Linked DNA regions of Homo sapiens: region 2 is linked to region 1. Evidence: fine-mapped expression QTL. Tissue or cell type: tibial nerve. Region 1 holds a variant in brackets; the other region holds the start of a gene. All regions are shown on one strand. Distances are between the middles of the regions.

The links. PIP is the estimated chance that this variant, and not a neighbour inherited with it, causes the effect.
Region 2: it holds the start of RRAD, and the variant in region 1 is fine-mapped to the expression of RRAD in tibial nerve (GTEx, PIP above 0.99).

Annotation. Positions count from the first base shown.
Region 1 is chr16:66,892,966-66,901,066 of GRCh38, forward strand. It overlaps LOC124903700 (a long non-coding RNA gene), which reads left to right. Exons shown (of 2, transcript XR_007065089.1): 2 at 2,030-4,049. It overlaps LOC107984821 (a long non-coding RNA gene), which reads right to left. Exons shown (of 3, transcript XR_001752244.2): 2 at 7,628-7,703; 3 at 6,724-7,528. Among named protein-coding and RNA genes, the nearest start is that of PDP2, 17 kb to the left of the region's middle. RefSeq lists enhancers at 6,143-7,038, 7,039-7,932. The variant T/C (reference allele first, on the strand shown) is at 4,479.
Region 2 is chr16:66,920,986-66,929,086 of GRCh38, forward strand. It overlaps RRAD (RRAD, Ras related glycolysis inhibitor and calcium channel regulator), which reads right to left and starts at 4,550. Exons shown (of 5, transcript NM_004165.3): 1 at 4,424-4,550; 2 at 3,825-4,209; 3 at 2,861-2,934; 4 at 2,531-2,735; 5 at 700-1,368. The coding sequence starts at 4,194. The coding sequence ends at 1,091. RefSeq lists enhancers at 657-1,180, 1,181-1,704, 6,170-7,369, 7,087-7,256 and silencers at 3,915-4,354, 4,485-4,544.

The DNA.
Region 1 (8,101 bases):
GATATCTTCTTACTGCAACCTCTGCCTCCTGGGCTCAAACCATCCTCCCACCTCAGCCTCCAGAATAGCTGAAACTACAAGTATGTGCCACCATGCCCAGCTAATTTTTTTTGTATTTTGTAGAGATGGGGTTTTGCCATGTCATCCAGGCTGGTCTCAAACTCTTGGCCTCAAGCGACCCTCTTGCCTCGGCCTCCCAAAGTGCTAGGATTCCATGTGTGAGCCTCCATGCCTGGCCCATCTCTAGAGTTTCTGTTTCCATTTTACTTGATGCTACTAAATGCCCTTAAATGGTCCCCAGCTTAGTGATCCTCTGAATTGTTGGTGGCCAGTGCTCCAATCAGCTCTCTGGGATGGATGAACCTTTACTGATGTCTGTGGGTCCAAATATCTTTGCTCCATTGGCCCCTGACTTTCTCTACCAGCAAGCAGCCTTGATCTGGGAAATCATCTAGCTGGGAGGAGCAAGGCAGGAAGTGGGAGGGAGGGTGGAGTGGGGGAGCGGGGCTGTGGAGGCCTGGGCTCCAGTTCTGATATATATGTGTGTATATATATATATATATATATATATATATATATGTATATATATTTTTTTTTTTTTTTTAGCAGGGTCTTGCTCTATTGCCCAGGCTGGAGTGCAGTGGTGCAGTCATGGCTCACTACAGCCTTGAACTCCTGGCCTCAAGTGATCCTCCTGCCTCAGGCTCTCAAAGTGCTGGGATTACAGATGTGAGCCACCGTGTCCAGCCCCAGTTCTTTTTCTTTTTTTTTTTTTTTTTTTCATTTTTTCTTTTTTTGAGACAGAGTCTCACTCTGTCACCCAGGCTGGAGTGTAGTGACGTGATCTTGGCTCACTGCAACTTCCACCTCCTGGGTTCAAGTGATTCTTGTGCCTCAGCCTCCCGAGTGGCTGGGACTACAGGCATGTGCAGCCACACCTGGCTAATTTTTGTATTTTAGTAGAGATGAGGTTTCACCATGTTGGCCAGGCTGGTCTCGAACTCCTGACCTCAGGTGATTCACCTGCCCCAGCTTCCCAAAGCAGGCCCATTAACCTAGCCCCTGGGAGAGTGGTCTGTGGAGGGAGTCTCCAAAGCCTACTCTGTCTCAGATCTCAACTCCTTCTGCCTTTCTGGGATTCTGGGAACCCCTCCCATGCCTCACCCCATTTTCCCTGCAACAGATGAACAGAAGGAATGTCTGCCATGAGCTACTGCTCTGTCCACCCTGCACAAGCTTGTGACCCCGTGCAGTGGGTCTGGGATGGGGCTGCAGGGCCACTGTGGAGGCAGCGGGACTAGCCATTGTGGCTAGGTGGGAGGAGCCCTGCAGGTGACCTCCTGGAATGGGAAAATAAGCAAGATCATGTGGTGGCCTCAGGAAGGGCTGGAGGCATGGCTGGCTCTTCATCAGCATAGAGGTAGGGAGGGGGCAAAGCAGAAAGTCCTGCCTCAGTCCCCCACTTTCCCTGCATGTTGATACCAGGGCTTTTGGGTATTCTTGTTTCCTCGTTTGCCTCCTCCTCATCCCCACCCCTGTGGCTACAGTCCTGGTCCCCTGTCCTGCCCTGGGGGTGCACAGGCTGCCTGTGGAATGAGTGAGGAAGGATGGGAGGACTGATGGTGTGGTGGATAGACAATTCAGGGAGGAGCAGGTGAGAGAGAAGGAGGCAAACAGTGAGTGGCTGCATGGCTGTGAAAAGCAAGGAAAGTTGGTGAGGAGTGTCCAGTACCAGAGGGGCTTTGGGTGTGGGTGGATGGAAATGAACAATTCGCCAAAAAAAGAACACTACATAGCCAGGTGTAGTAGTGCATGCCTGTGGTCCCAGCTACTTGGGAGGCTGAAGTGTGAGGATCGCTTGAGCCCGGGAGGTCAAGGCTGCAAAGAGAGATGATCGCACCACTGCACTGCAGCTTGGGTGACAGAATGAGTTCCTGTCTCCAAAACAAAACAAGACAAAACAAACAAACAAAAACAGAAAAAGGGGAACACTACAGAAAGGTGAGGGCCATTCTGTGTTCTCACTCAGGGCCCTGGACACAGGATGATCCCGGATGGTGAGGCGGAGGTGAGGACATTGCTGTATGAGCGGAGAGTTGGCTGAGCTGCTAGAATCCCTTCCTCTGAAACGAAGCAGTGAAGGGATGGTGTGGGGAAGGTTGTCAACCAGCCAGCATGCTCCTGGGCCTGTGGAAGGGGAGAGTGTCCACGGTTCACTTGGGGTCCCAGGGACCTTGCCAGCCCTGTACTGGGCTTTGGCATGAAGGGGTGGAGAAGCTCTTCCAAGCTCTGACTGGTGTCTTGGTTACTAAATCCTGAGGGTGGCATGATGAGAACACCAGTGGGGAGCCTTTGGCTGTGGGGTTCTGTGAGTGAGGCAGCATGAAGCAGAAGTTGCCTCTAGATGTCGCCATCTGACCACACTGGCATCAGCTGAGTGCCGTTGGAGGAAAATGTTCATGAGATGCGGCCTGAGGCCTGTCCCCAGCCCAAGCTGGGTCTCCTGGCGACTGCAGCTTGGAGCACCTTTGGAAAGCCTCCTGGGACTTGGGATGTCTTTGGGGCTGGGAACAAGTGTGGGTGGAGGAAGGGCCGGTCCTGTGGTCACCCAGCCCTGTCTTGTAGGGAAGGAACTGCTGGGGTCCCAGGAGAAGCCAGAGCCAGGCAGTGAGCTCCAGATGGTGGGGGAGTGGCTGCCACCTTGACCATCTTCCCCCGCATGGCTGTTCTCCTCTGTGGACCACCCCATGCCTCTGACCCCCATCCTCCCTACCCCATTCCCTACAGCCAGTCCCCACAACCACTCTTCCAGCAGCCCGGGGGGCCATTCCCATCTGTCCTCCCCTGTCCCAGTTCCAATAATGGACTACACCACCTTTATCTTCCACTGCCCCAAATGACGGCTGTCCGTCTAGTCAGTTCCACCCACTACACCACAGTCATCGTGACCATGTCACTCCTTTGCTCCGAACCATGGCTCCCCCTCACCCTAAGGAGGAAAGCTCAGACTCCCTCTCCCCAGGGTGGCCTCTCCAGCCTCCTCCATCTGTTCCCAGCAGGGTGGGCATGGCTGTCACATGTTCCTAGAACATGCCAGGCCTTTGGCCTTGCTGTTCCCTCCGCTGGAACACCTACCACTGCACCATCCACCTCCACCTGTCTTGTTCCTGCGACTCAGCATGACTCTGCTGAAGCATCCCCTGCCCTGGGAAGACTTCCTGGCTTTCCAGGCAGTACCAGCTCCTGTCTCCAGTTCCCATGGCACTGGGACCTCCATCACATCTCCTCAGATAGCTTGCCAATGTCTGTCAGTCTGTCTGCCCTCTTGGCGGCACCAGGGACCTCCTCTGACTCTCCTCTGAGTCCCCAGGGATCAGCCCAGTGCCTGGTATGAAGTAGGCACTTGCACATGCATTTAAAATGTTAGGGAGGAAAGAGTGGGAAAAGAGAAAGAGATCCTTGTCTTTCCTCACAAGCTGAAGTCACCTCTTGCAAGCATTGGGCCTGTGCCCTGGTTATCCCTGGGATGGAGCCGAGAACCCTCCAACTTTTGCTTCTTGCTATGGGCTTTTTGTTTTGAGACAGAGTCTCACTCTGTTGCCCAGACTGGAGTGCAGTGGCAGGATCATGGCTCACTGTAGCCTCAACAATGTCCGGCCTCTAAGCCCAAGCTAAGCCATCATATCCCTTGTGACCTGCACGTATACATCCAGATCACCTGAAGCAACTGAAGATCCACAGAAGAAGTGAAAATAGCCTTAACTGATGACATTCCACCATTGTGATTTGTTTCTGCCCCACCCTAACTGATCAATGTACTTTGTAATCTGCCCCACCCTTAAGAATGTTCTTTGTAATTCTCCCCACCCTTGAGAAGGTACTTTGTGAGATCCACTCCCTGCCTGCCAAACGTTGCTCCTAACTCCACCGCCTATCCCAAAACCTGTAAGAACTAATGATTAATCCACCACCCTTTCTTTGCTGACTCTCTTTTCGGACTCAGCCCACTTGCACCCAGGTGAAATAAACAGCCTTGTTGCTCACACAAAGCCTGTTTGGTGGTCTCTTCACACGGACACGTGAGACAAACTTCCCCTGGCTCAGGTGATCCTCCCACCTCAGCCTTCCGAGTAGCTGGGGCTACAGGCGTGCACCATCACCTGGCTAATTTTTGTATTTTTTGTGGAGATGAGGTTTCGCCATGTTGCTCCAGCTGGCCCTGTTATGGTTTTAAGGATAACCACAAATTCCTTGACACTCTTTCCATCAAGGAGTGGGGTCTAATTCCTCTCCTCTTGAATCTGGGCTGGCCTTAGAGTCTTGCTTATAACTGTCTCACGCACGTCCATGTGAAGAGAGTCCACCAAACAGGTTTTGTGTGAGCAACAAGGCTGTTTATTTATTTTGGACTCAAGGCGGGCTGAGTCCGAAAAAGGAGTCAGCAAGGGTGGTGGGATTATCATTAGCTCTTATAGGTT[T/C]GGGGATAGACGGTGGAGTTAGGAGCAATGTTTGGCAGGCAGGGAGTGGATCTCACAAAGTACCTTCTCAAGGGTGGGGAGAATTACAAAGAACCTTCTTAAGGGTGGGGGAGATTACAAAGTACATTGATCAGTTAGGGTGGGGAAGAAACAAATCACAATGGTGGAATGTCATCAGTTAAGGCTATTTTCACTTCTTTTGTGGATCTTCAGTTGCTCCAGGCCATCTGGATGTATAGGTGCAGGTCACAAGGGATATGATGGCTTAGCTTGAGCTCAGAGGCCTGACAACAACTAATAGAATATAGTAAGTCTTTATATAATGTCCTCACTTAATGTAGTTCTTGGAAATTGCAGCTTTAAGCAAAATGACATACAAGGAAACCAATTTTGTCATAGGCTAATTGACATAAACAAGAGTTAAGTTCCTACAGCATATTTCTGGTGATAGAAATATCATCAGACTTCTAAATAAAGACCCAAATGCTTCTCATATTAAACATTGAAACACGTGTAAGAAAGACTAATAGAAACAAGGCCAGGTGTGGTGGCTCACACCTGTAATCCCAGCACTTTGGGAGGCTGGGGAAGGTGGATCACCTGAGGTCAGGGATTTGAGACCAGCCTGGCCAACATGGCGAAACCCTGTCTCTCCTAAAAATACAAAAATTAGCCGGGCTTGGTGGTGGGCACCTGTAATCCCAGCTGCTCAGGAGGCTGAGGCAGGAGAATTTCTTGAATCCAGGAGGCGGAGGTTGCAGTGAGCCAAGATTGTGTCATTGCACTCCAGCGTGGGCAACAAGAGTGAAACTCCATCTCAAAAAAAAAAAAAAAAAAGAAAGAAAGAAAGATTAATAAAAACAAGTAATAGAATTATTTATCCAGTTATTCCAGTTCAAGGTCATGGATGGCTGGAGCCTATCCCAGCAGCTCAGGGCGCCAGGCGGGAACCAGGCCTAGACAGGATGCCATTGCCTTGAGTACACTCACACTCATGCAGACTGGGAGCATGCAGACAAGCTAGTTAATCTAACATGCACATCTTTGGGATGGGGGAAGAAACCAGAGTACCCAGAGAAAGTCCTCTACAGACTCCACACAGACAGTAGCCCCAGCCAGAAATAGATTTTTTTCTTCATCAATGTTGTAACAAAATAATGTTGAACAAAATGAGCCAGGAGTGGTCGCACACCCCTGTAGTTCCAGCCACTTGGGAGGCTGAGGCAGAAGGATCGCTTGAACCCAGGAGTTTGAGGTTACAGTGAGCTATGATCATGCCACTGCACTCCAGCCTGAGCAATAGAGACCTGTCTCTAAAACAAACAAACAAACAAACAAACAAATCATTAAAAAAAATAATAAAAGCTTTCAGTGACATCCTCCCATTTCTGCCTCCCACCATCCTCCCCTGCTTCCAAGGAGTCAGAAAAATGTCACAATCCCTTCATGATGTGCAAGGCTGAGTGTGACCTGGCCCTGCCCACTCTTCAACCCCATCTCATACCTCTACCACTTCTGTGCTTCAGCCACTCTGAGTTGCTTCCAGTGAGGGAGTCTCTCTGTTAACTGGACATAGTAGGGACTCAATTTGTGATAATTTGTGATCATAAACTAGGTCACATCTGTGAGCCTTGCTGAGCACTTTACATGTATTATCTCATTTAATCTTCATGCAACCCTATGATCAAGTATTATTAACCCATTTTACAGATGAAGAAACTGAGCCTGGGCATGTAAAAGGTTGTGCCCAAGGTCACAAAAATAGTAAATGCAGAGTCGAGTTTGAAACCCTGGTGTCTGAATCCAAACCTTCCTCAGCAATCATGTGATTCTACCGAATAGGTATTGATTTGATAAGAAGCATGTGCTCCACCTGCTCCCCAAAGGCCGGGCAGCAACTTAGGAGGGAGAGTGAGCTGTTGGTCTATGGAAGCATTCTAGCAAGAGCTGGGGAGCACTAGGCAAGATGTGAATTGGACGGAGTGTGGGGGCCCCACCCTGAGGCTGGGACCTCTGCCTATGCCTGGGATTGGGGGCTGTGTGCACGCATGGGTCATGTGATACCCTGTATATGGCCTTTCCCTGTGTCCAGGCCAGCCTAGTCCTTGGGGCTGGGGGTGGGCAAGAGCAGGTGGAAGCTTGGGGAGCCCGCCTCGAGCAGGCAGAGTCCAGCAGACCATAGCCTGTCCACTGTCCTGACCCTGTGGCCCTGGACTGGCCTCTGCCCTGGGCCTGGCACCTCTGGCTTGGGGAAGGGCCCAGAACTACTCAGGCACACAGTGAGGCCTGCCCTCCCACCTGCTACCAGGCAGAATTTATCTCAACTGAGTGAGAAATAGAGAGAGGGAGAGAGAAAGAGAGAAAGGGAGAGAGAGAGAGAGGCAATTGCGTAAGAGGATTTGAACAAAAATGGTTATGGCACTGGTGTTTGTAAGAAAGAGAAACTGGACACTGTTTACATGTCCTCCTCAAGGGCTGGACAAAGAGATTCTGATGTGTCCATCCTGGCAGACTTTAGAAATAATTAGGAAAAGAAAAAGTGATGGGGGAAGATCTTTATAGTTTATCTGACAGGAAACTGCTAATTGTCAATACTGTAAATGTTGGGGGGAATTGATCACAAAACAGAATGTACAGTGTGACCCCAAGTTGAAATCCTTCCCCCAGCCCTCACACACACTCTTCCACCAGCTCCCTCGTGACTTACCCTGTTGGCCAGTGGCCAGAGGGTGGGGGAGGGGGCTTATCTTGGGAAGTGGATGAGATCACCCCGAGGCTGGCTGGTTTAGTACCGGGTAACCTTTTCTACCCTTATGGCTCTCAGAGGCTTCTGTGCTGGCTCCTAAACCTTGGCGCCAACCTCAGGCTGGAGGGGGTTATGCTCCCCCTCCCCAGGGTGGAGATGGTGGCCAAAGCCGGATAGGGCACAGGTGCTGGGCTGACGCAGAGATGGAGTGGCAGAGGGGGTCTGGGGAGTTCCAGGGCTCAGCTGGGACCCTATGAGAACTCTGCTCCCAGCAGATCTGGGTGTCCTGTCATTTCCCAGGGACCTGTGTGTGCAGAAAATACATTTTGTGGATACAGGAATATCCCAGAGGATAGCCACTGTGTGAAGGGCCGAGGGGTCTCCCTGGCAGTGCCTCTAACACCTTGGCATGTCTTGGGATTCCAGTCAGCCAGCCGGGCTCTCCTCGGACAGGACTCCTCTTGTTTCTGGCCAAAATTCTGGTGAGGATGGTTGTGGGGGGAAGAGATAAGTCTGTGTTGGGAAAGGGACTAGGGCTCAATTCCAGCTCAGCAAATAAATATTCTGTTCAACCCTCTGCCTGCCCCCTACCTCCCACGCCCCCACTCTCCCACCCCCCGGTGCCTATCAGGCGACTTCCAGCCTTAAGGAAACTTTGCAGTGTGTCCCAATCCCCTGAGCACAGCCACACCTCTGAGCCTTTGCCCAGACAGTTGTCCCAACCTGACCACCTTTCCCCTCTCCAGCTGCCTTTGTCAACCCCCACCCTGGAGCTGGGTCAGGTGCCATCTGTCCCCAAGTCAGCGTCCATCATGTCAGCTTGTCTATGTTCATCTGGGGTGAGCCTGAGGGCAGGAGCTGGGTCCAGGGAAAATTC
Region 2 (8,101 bases), 28 kb after region 1:
ACGAGTACACCTTCCTATACAAATGCAAGACCTCTCATTCCAGGCAGGGCGGGCTCCCGGCAGCTGTTCCCACCAAAACTGAATTAGCCAATGCTGAGCATGGAATGTTCTGGCCTGGATACTCATGGTAGAGAGAACAGTGAGTGCCTCCTCCGTAGCTCAACCCCAGTGAAGTGGTGGAGGAGCCATGTGGAGCTGTGTGTGCCTTCACAAACCACCCCTCGGAGGTCTCTATCCCCAACCTCAGCTGATTCCAGCCCCTCAAGAGGGAACAGGGCAGAAATACCAGCTGTGGAGCCAGATCCTGTCTGGTTGTGAGACCCAGGGTTCCTGCCTGGTTGTGAGACCCAGGGTTCCTGCCTGGTTGTGAGACCCAGGGCAGAATGTGCTCCCCTGAGCAGCCTGTTTCCCTTTATGGACAGTGAAGTGATTGAACCCTCAATCAGTTGGGCAACGCCAGGCCCCAGTGCAGAAAGAGAAGAATCTGGATAACAGGGACTGGGAGGGGTTTGTGTCTCCTGCTCCTTGAACCTCTAACCAGACCCGATGCCCATCCCAGCTGGCTAAATCTGGACCCTCACATTAACACATCATGGCCACACACTAGGGTGGGGCAGTGAGCCCCCATCCCTCAACTTCAGAAATCCTTCCAGCTCCTGAAGCGCCCAGATAGGAGGAAAGAGAGTCAACAGCCATGACTATCAGGAAATAGCCTTTATTACAAAAATCTGCATGTAAACAAATAGCTACCGCACTGAAGAGCCTCCCTCCAGGGCAGGCACACCCGGGCTGTGAAAAAAGGCAGAGTCCTCTCCCGGCACGCAGGCCTGCCCGGCGGCTGCGCTGCGGCTGCTTGGGACGCATATGAGCCTGCGCATGCATCTCTGTGGGCCCAGCCCTCACTGGCCCCTGAGAGCCACTTCGCAGGGCAGCACTGTCTATCTGTCCATGACCATGAGGTTGGGGGTGCCCGGCTGGCAGCTCCGAGGGACCCAGAGTCTGAGCCTGCTCTGAGGCACCCGGGGCAGTTGGCTGGGCCAGCCCACCAACCCTTCCGTTCGTCTCCCACCATAGTGGGAGCGGGTGGGACCTAGAGAACCGAGAGGTCGTGGCAGGACTTGGATTTGGCGCGAAAGGCCATCTTGCGGCTGTTACGAGCTACGATGCGGCCCAAGAAGCGCTTCGCCTTTTTGCCAAGGCTCTCTCGCCTCCGGGTGCCTGCTTGCCGTCGTGCGTTGGCTTCTTTGCTGTCCCTGCGCAGGCGTATCTGGCGCACGACACCTTCAAACAGCGCCTGGACATTGTGGTGCAATGCCGCTGATGTCTCAATGAACTTGCAGTCAAAGACCACCGCGCAGGCCCGGCCCTCTGTGTGGGTGGGGAAAGGCAGGCACCAGTAAACAAAGGGTGGGTGAATGAGGAGTCCCCTCCAACAGTGGCCACCCATGGAAGCTGCCACTCGAGAATTTGCAAGGTCCTCCCCGAAAACACAGAGACCCCAGCTCCTGTACTGAGGGTACTGGGCACTGCTGCGTCACCCAGTAGGCAGAGTGCCTGCATTTAAGGAGCCCCCAAAACAGTGGCCCTCAAAAGGAGATCCATTTATTGAAATAATTTGAAGCCTGATATTTAAACAAAGTACGACAGTAGTAAACACAGGAAAATGAGAACTATGTTGGACAACTTAGTATTTTATTTTATTTTATTTTATTTTTCTGAGATAGAGTCTCGCTGTCTCCCAGGCTGGAGTGCAGTGGCACAATCTCTGCTCACTGAAAGCTCCGCCTCCCGGGTTCACGCCATTCTCCTGCCTCAGCCTCCCGAGTAGCTGGGACTACAGGCGCCCGCCACCACGCCCGGCTAATTTTTGTATTTTTAGTAGAGATGGGGTTTCACCATGCTAGCCAGGATGGTCTCGATCTCCTGACCTCGTGATCCACCCGCCTCGGCCTCCCAAAGTGCTGGGATTACAGGCGTTAGCCACCCCCTGGCCCATGCCCCGCACAACTTAGTATTTTTTAATTCGAGGTTATATCATGATGAATGATCCAGTGGACTGGGGTTGCGGAGGCAAGGTCACCAAGTCACTGCTGGGTTCCTCTGAGGGGCTCAGTACTGGGGTCCACAGAAAAGGATGCTGAGGCCAAGTGGGAAGGGTCTTCCCCAGGGCCAAGTCTACTCTAAGAATGGCCCAGACCTAGCACACAGGCTCTGACCTCCTGGCCTGTTCCCCTACACTCTCTTCCACCCATTTACCCCCCCAACCAGCCAGGCCAGGACCAAGAGGGGCAGGAGAGGAGGGCCCTGCGGTGCCCAGCTCCCCTATCAGATTTGGTTCTTTCCCCAGCCCTCTGGGGCCTTCCGGAGCCCTGTGAGCAGGCACCAGCTCTCTCCCATTTCCCTCCCCGCCAGTTTTCTTTCTGAACATTTTTAGCCTCTGATGATCCCCAGGGACTCAAGCTGAGCCAAGACTGCCTGGATCAGGGCCCAGCTGGGCTCTCCCTCCCCCTGCAACCTGCCGCCTACTCACCATCCACCGAGACCTCACGAGAGCGCACCAGGTCGCTCTTGTTGCCCACGAGGATGATGGGCACATCATCTGTTTGCCGTGCACGCCGCAGCTGGACCCGCAGTTCTGAGGCCTTCTCGAAGCTGCCCTTGTCCGTCACTGAGTACACAATGACATAGGCATCCCCCATGGCCATGCAGTGGCCGGGCAACCAGCGGCCCCCGTCCTGGAGAACACACAACACACATCTGCCCAACAGTCCTCATGCCCCCGACACGAGCCTGGCACTCCCAGACCTCTAACCCAACTCACTCCTCCCTCCCCTGCCCTGGGTCTCTGCTTGCACCCTACCTGCTCCCAAATGTCGTAGACCATGAGTGATGCCTCTTCTCCGTCCACTACAATGGAGCGATCATAGGTGTGCCCTAGGCAGAAGGCCAGTAGACAGGTTACCAGCTGGTTGTCAAAGCCGCTGCTGCCAGGTTTCCTGTTCTGGCCACACCCTCCAACTCTTCCCCAGAGCCCTCCTTACCCTCCACTCCACTTGCAGATGCTGGTATGTGGCAACAGCAGTGCCAGGCAGGGAAGTGGGGGCTGGAGGGCATGGTGTGCCTGACCTCCACCCACATGCCCCCCCTGGGGACCTTGGCCACCTAGGGCTCCTCTCTTAGAAATCCCTCTGGTTAGAAACTCTGACCTGTCCCTGATAGGCAGGGAGGGATGTCCAGTCCCATCCCACAGAGTAGCCATATCTATGCCCTGGCCTTCTACTCTGGGCATTTCTTCCCTACCAAAGGCTGGGGGGTGTCCCTTCTCCTTTCCTTTCCCCATTTATGAAGTGGGTAGGTAGAGGCATGATTCTGAAAGCGCCAATAGAATTCCACAGTATTGGCCAGGTGCGGTGGCTCACGCCTGTAATCCCAGCACTTTGGGAAGCCAAGGTGGGCGGATCACGAGGTCAGAAATTCCAGACCAGCCTGGCCAACATGGTGAAACCCCAACTCTACTAAAAACACAAATATTAGCCGGGCGTGGTAGCAGGCGCCTGTAATCCTAGCTACTCTGGAGGCTGAGGCAGGAGAATCCCTTGAAACCTGAAGGCGGAGGTTGCAGTGAGCCTAGATCGAGGCCACTGCACTCCAGCCTGGGAAAAAGAGCGAAACTCTGTCTCAAAATAATAATAAAATAATAATAATAATAATAATAACAACAACAACAACTATAATTCCACGGTATTTGCGGCTTTGAGTACCGGTCTCAGCCCCTAGTCCTAGCCCCGGGATCGCCCCTCCCCTGAACAGCTGGGTCCCCTCACCTGCTGCCTCTGCTTCAGGCCCGTCCTCCACACCGCCGAAGATGCGCGCCAGGGCGCTCTTGCCCACGCCGGGCGCCCCCAGCAGCAGCACCTTGTAAACGCTCTCGTCTGAGTCGCTGCCCCCTGAGCTGAGCGAGTCCTCGGAGTCCTCGGGCCAGTCCAGCCTGGGACCCTGGGTCCCCGTCCCGGCCGCGGCCGCCGTCAGGGCACCCGGGGTCAGCGCCGCCTGCAGGTCGCGCTCGTCCACCGGCATGCTGCGGCGGTGCAGCGGCGGGGCGGGGCCCCAGGGTGTGCTGCCCCGACGGCGCTCGCGCTCCTGGCCCCCACCGCGGCTCCCGCCCGCTCCGCTGCCGCCGCCGTTCAGGGTCATCGCGTCCGGGACCGTCTAGGGGATCAGGAACCCGAGTGGCCGTGTAAGCCGCGAGGGAGGCGGGACCCGGGGCGCACCTGCCCAACCCGGAGTCAGGCGGGATGCTCCGGCCGAGGTCCCGCCGCAGCCCTCCCCCAGCCCCCAGGTCGCGGCGCCCTCACCCGGGACCCCTCCGGACCTGGCGCATCCATCTGCAGCCGCCCCGACCCCGCTCCGCCAGGACACTCACCCACTCGCACACAGACACGCTCAGGACTAGGATCCGGATTAGGAGGCCACGCACTCGTAGTCCGGACTCGGACTTTAGGGTTTCCGCCGCCGCTGCTGCTGCAGCCACCGCCTTCTCAGCCCGCACTGGGCTCTGGCTCCAGAGCCGCCTATTTAAGCCTCCACCCGCCCCCGCTCCCGCCCCCGGTCCACGCTGCTGCGGGGGCTGACGTGTCTGTCCACCCCCACCAGGGGAATCCCCCACCCTCTTCCTCGGACCTTACATCCCCGACACCCCGCCCTACCCGCCAGGGGAGTAGCGGTAGCTGTCTGGGAATAGAGGGGCTGACCGGTAGGCGAGGTCCGGAGCTGAGGGTGTGTGTGAGAAGGAGAGAGAGAGCGAGGTTGCGGGGGGAGTACGTGATGGGGAGGCAGGCAGCGGGGTAAACCCAATCAGCCAAAAGCAGCAACTGCCCTCTGGAGAAGAATTCGGTCTGGCCCCGTGAGACTGAATTCTCCCTTTCCTCTCCCCAAGTCCCGGCTCGTCCTTTTAGCAAGTAAGCTAGTTACAGGCTGGACAGAGATCCCCCTTCTCTGCCCATGACACCCACTCCCCATAGGCTCAGGTCTGAGCTAGAATTTAGGGGGTGTCCTAAATTCACACAAAATCCTTTCCACTCCCCATCCTGGAGTTGAAGATTCTCCCTAATGAGCCTAACCTTCAGTGTGAGGGTTGGTGTCACCCCATGAGCCCCTGGGGGCCCTGAGAGGGCTGTTGGGGGTGGGGGCAGCTCTGACAGAGTTGCAGGTGGAGATGCCTGCTTGAACCCTGGGGAGGATACCCCAGCCCAGAAGAGGGAAGGGATTAAACTCAGTCCCCATCCCACCTCCCAGCACCCACCAGGCAGCTGCCAGCAACTCTGCTAAAAATAAATAATCTGCCCCAGCCCTGGCCCTGGCCGTGGCTCTGGTTATTCTGCTCCTGGACTGGAAGTTGCCCAGAGTTGGGGAAATCCAGGCCAATGGGTGTTGAATGCCAGCAGGAGCCAGCCACTTCGAGTCGTCAAGGTCTCCCTTCTTCCCTCTAGCTGTAGGCTGAGCCAGCCACCCAGGGCACATCCAGGGCCTGGAGGTTCAGGCCCCCACCCAAAAGGGGCATAAACACAGGGTGTGGTCAAGGCATGAGGAGTGTCTTAGCTCCCTGCTCATCTCTCAGGGGTCTGAGGGTTGCAGGTCAGGCTGTGAGGTATTTTGTGACAGGGACCTGCTATCAGACTGTGACATCTGATTGTGACAAGTGTGGTGGGGGTGGGAGGGCATCCATTTGGGGCTCAGGTGACATCACAGATGGATGGACCCTGGTGGGCTGTGGTAGGTTGTCATGGAGACCTGGGCCAGGCTCTTTGGCTGCTGCATCAGTTTCCTTGGCAACGCCTAAGAAGGCCTTGGATTGAGGAGGGCCTGGCTCGGTAAGATTAGGGCCCTCTTGTCCTTGAGGTCTTCAAAGTAGGCAAAAGCTGGGCTGAGGGGTGGCCTGCCCATGGTCCTAGGGGATCTTGGAGGCCTGAGCATCCCCATGCTGGTTCTGGCTTCCTGAACGAACTCCAGTGGGAAGAGGAAGTTATGGGCAGAGCCTCCCGTTAGCAGGCAAGTCTAAAGAGCCACCACACACTTCCCATGAGGAATCCTGGCTGGGCTGCCTGTGCCCCCTCCAACCCCATGACTGTGCCACTGGAAAGAGCCTCCTCTGGGTGTCTGGCAGAGGGCGAGGGTGGGGGGTAGCTGTGGCCCTTCCCAGCAGGGGGCCATGCAAAGAAGGAGGGCTGGGTTTCCCCTCTGGCAATCTGAGCTCTTGACCTCAGCAGTGTTTCTTCATTGCCAAGGGAACTGCAACCACAAAGGGCCACTCAAGCCCCAGGCATTCCAGTGGCTGCTCCAACAGGCCAGAGACACTCACCACAAGCTAGATATGGCCAGGGGCCCCAGGGATTAACACCAGGACACAACCTTGAGACACCCCCACTCCCACCACCTGGTTCTCCCAGCTCTCTGGGCTGAGCATGGCTGCCCAGGAGGAATAAACTGAGGCTAGAACCACTCCTAGGTCCGCCCGGGCTTCAGATCCCAGCTGTGCTCCTTGCTAGCTGTTTCACCTGTGTCCATTTATCTAGGCTGAGCCTCAGTTTCTCCAGTGTAGAACAGGGATCACCTCTTCCTGATGGTTATTATAAGACAAAACAAACATGAAATGCAGAGGCACAGTAGTTGGCTCAAGTCGGGCACACAGTAATATCTCACTAAGAGCACGTTTATCATGATCATCCTTCGTTGGATGGGGCAGGTTAGGTGAATTTGTGGTCCCTCTCCTGTTTCTGCTCCACTCTCTCCAGGATGGTGGTCTGTCCAGGAGTGGGGCAGAGGTCTCAGGAACAATGCAGATACCTCTCCCCTAGCCCCATACCCATGTCTCCTCTCTGTAGGACCCCACACTCTTCCCCGTCCCTCAGGTGACAAGATGCTGCAGAGGGAACTGGGCTGGGCTTCAGTGTCCCCACCCCCTCCTCACACCACAGCCTTCAGGCCCCAGAGCCTCTGCTGTGTTCTAAGGCCCAATGCATTCATTCATTCCGCGGTCCTGTACTAAATACCTACTGTGTGCCAGGCCCTTGTGCTGGGGGCAGGATGATGAGCAAAAATAGACATGGCCGGGCATGTTCATACATGTCATCTAATCCCTGGGTCAAACTCAGCTATGATTTGTTGTTCCCATTTTGTAGACATGGTAACCAAAGCCTGAGGAGTCACAGGCCAGAAACAGCAGAGCCAGACATACCTGGTGGAGGGTTTCAGGAACCTCAAACTTCACCATCCCCTGTACCCTTGTGTCCTCAGATAGCATCTGGGGTTCCAGAAAGTTCCCTGGGCACTGGCCCAGGATGCACAGATGGTGGCCCTGCAGGCAGCCAGGGGCCAGGCACTGATGAGTCAAGAGTGACAAGAGAACTATCTGATATGTCAGCTGTGGCATGAGCAGTTTGGTGTCCCTCACCCACCATGGCCTGGCTGCCAGGAAGGCCAGCCAAATGACTCAATCACACCTGCCGCCCCCATGACTCCCTTCATCCCCAGCTCAACACAGACACCATGGCCACCTCAGACAGGGACTGTCCGGCAGAAGGTACACACGTCGTAGGGTGTGAGGCCTTCAGCTCGGGAAGGCTCCCTGGGGCTCAGCTGTTCACTCTGCCTCTCTGGAGCCCTCAGCTTCCTCATCTGTGCGGGATACAGTGCCTAGATCATCAGAGCTAGGCCTAGACCCATTTAAATCTCCCAAGGGCAGTCCCAAGTGGTTGCCATGACTATCCCCCTCACAGATGAAGAAGCTCTGGGCAATAGGGGCTGATGGCTTCACCTCTCTGATCTTAGGTAGCCAGATCCAGCACCTCCTCTTGGTCATTAGGTGGCGAGGCCACTCCCTCCTAAGAGTGAGCTGAGTGGGAGCAATAGGAGTTGGGGTTCAGGATGGGCTTAGCCCCTTCTGTAGGCAACGGCGCCCCCTGCCAGCTGCACAGCACCTATCAAGCTGCTCAGGGCCTCCTTTACTCCCTAGCTGTAAGTTTTTTTTTTTTTTTGAGACAGGGTGTTGCTCTGTCACCCAGGACGGAGTGCAGTGGCACAATCATAGCTCACTGCAGCCTCA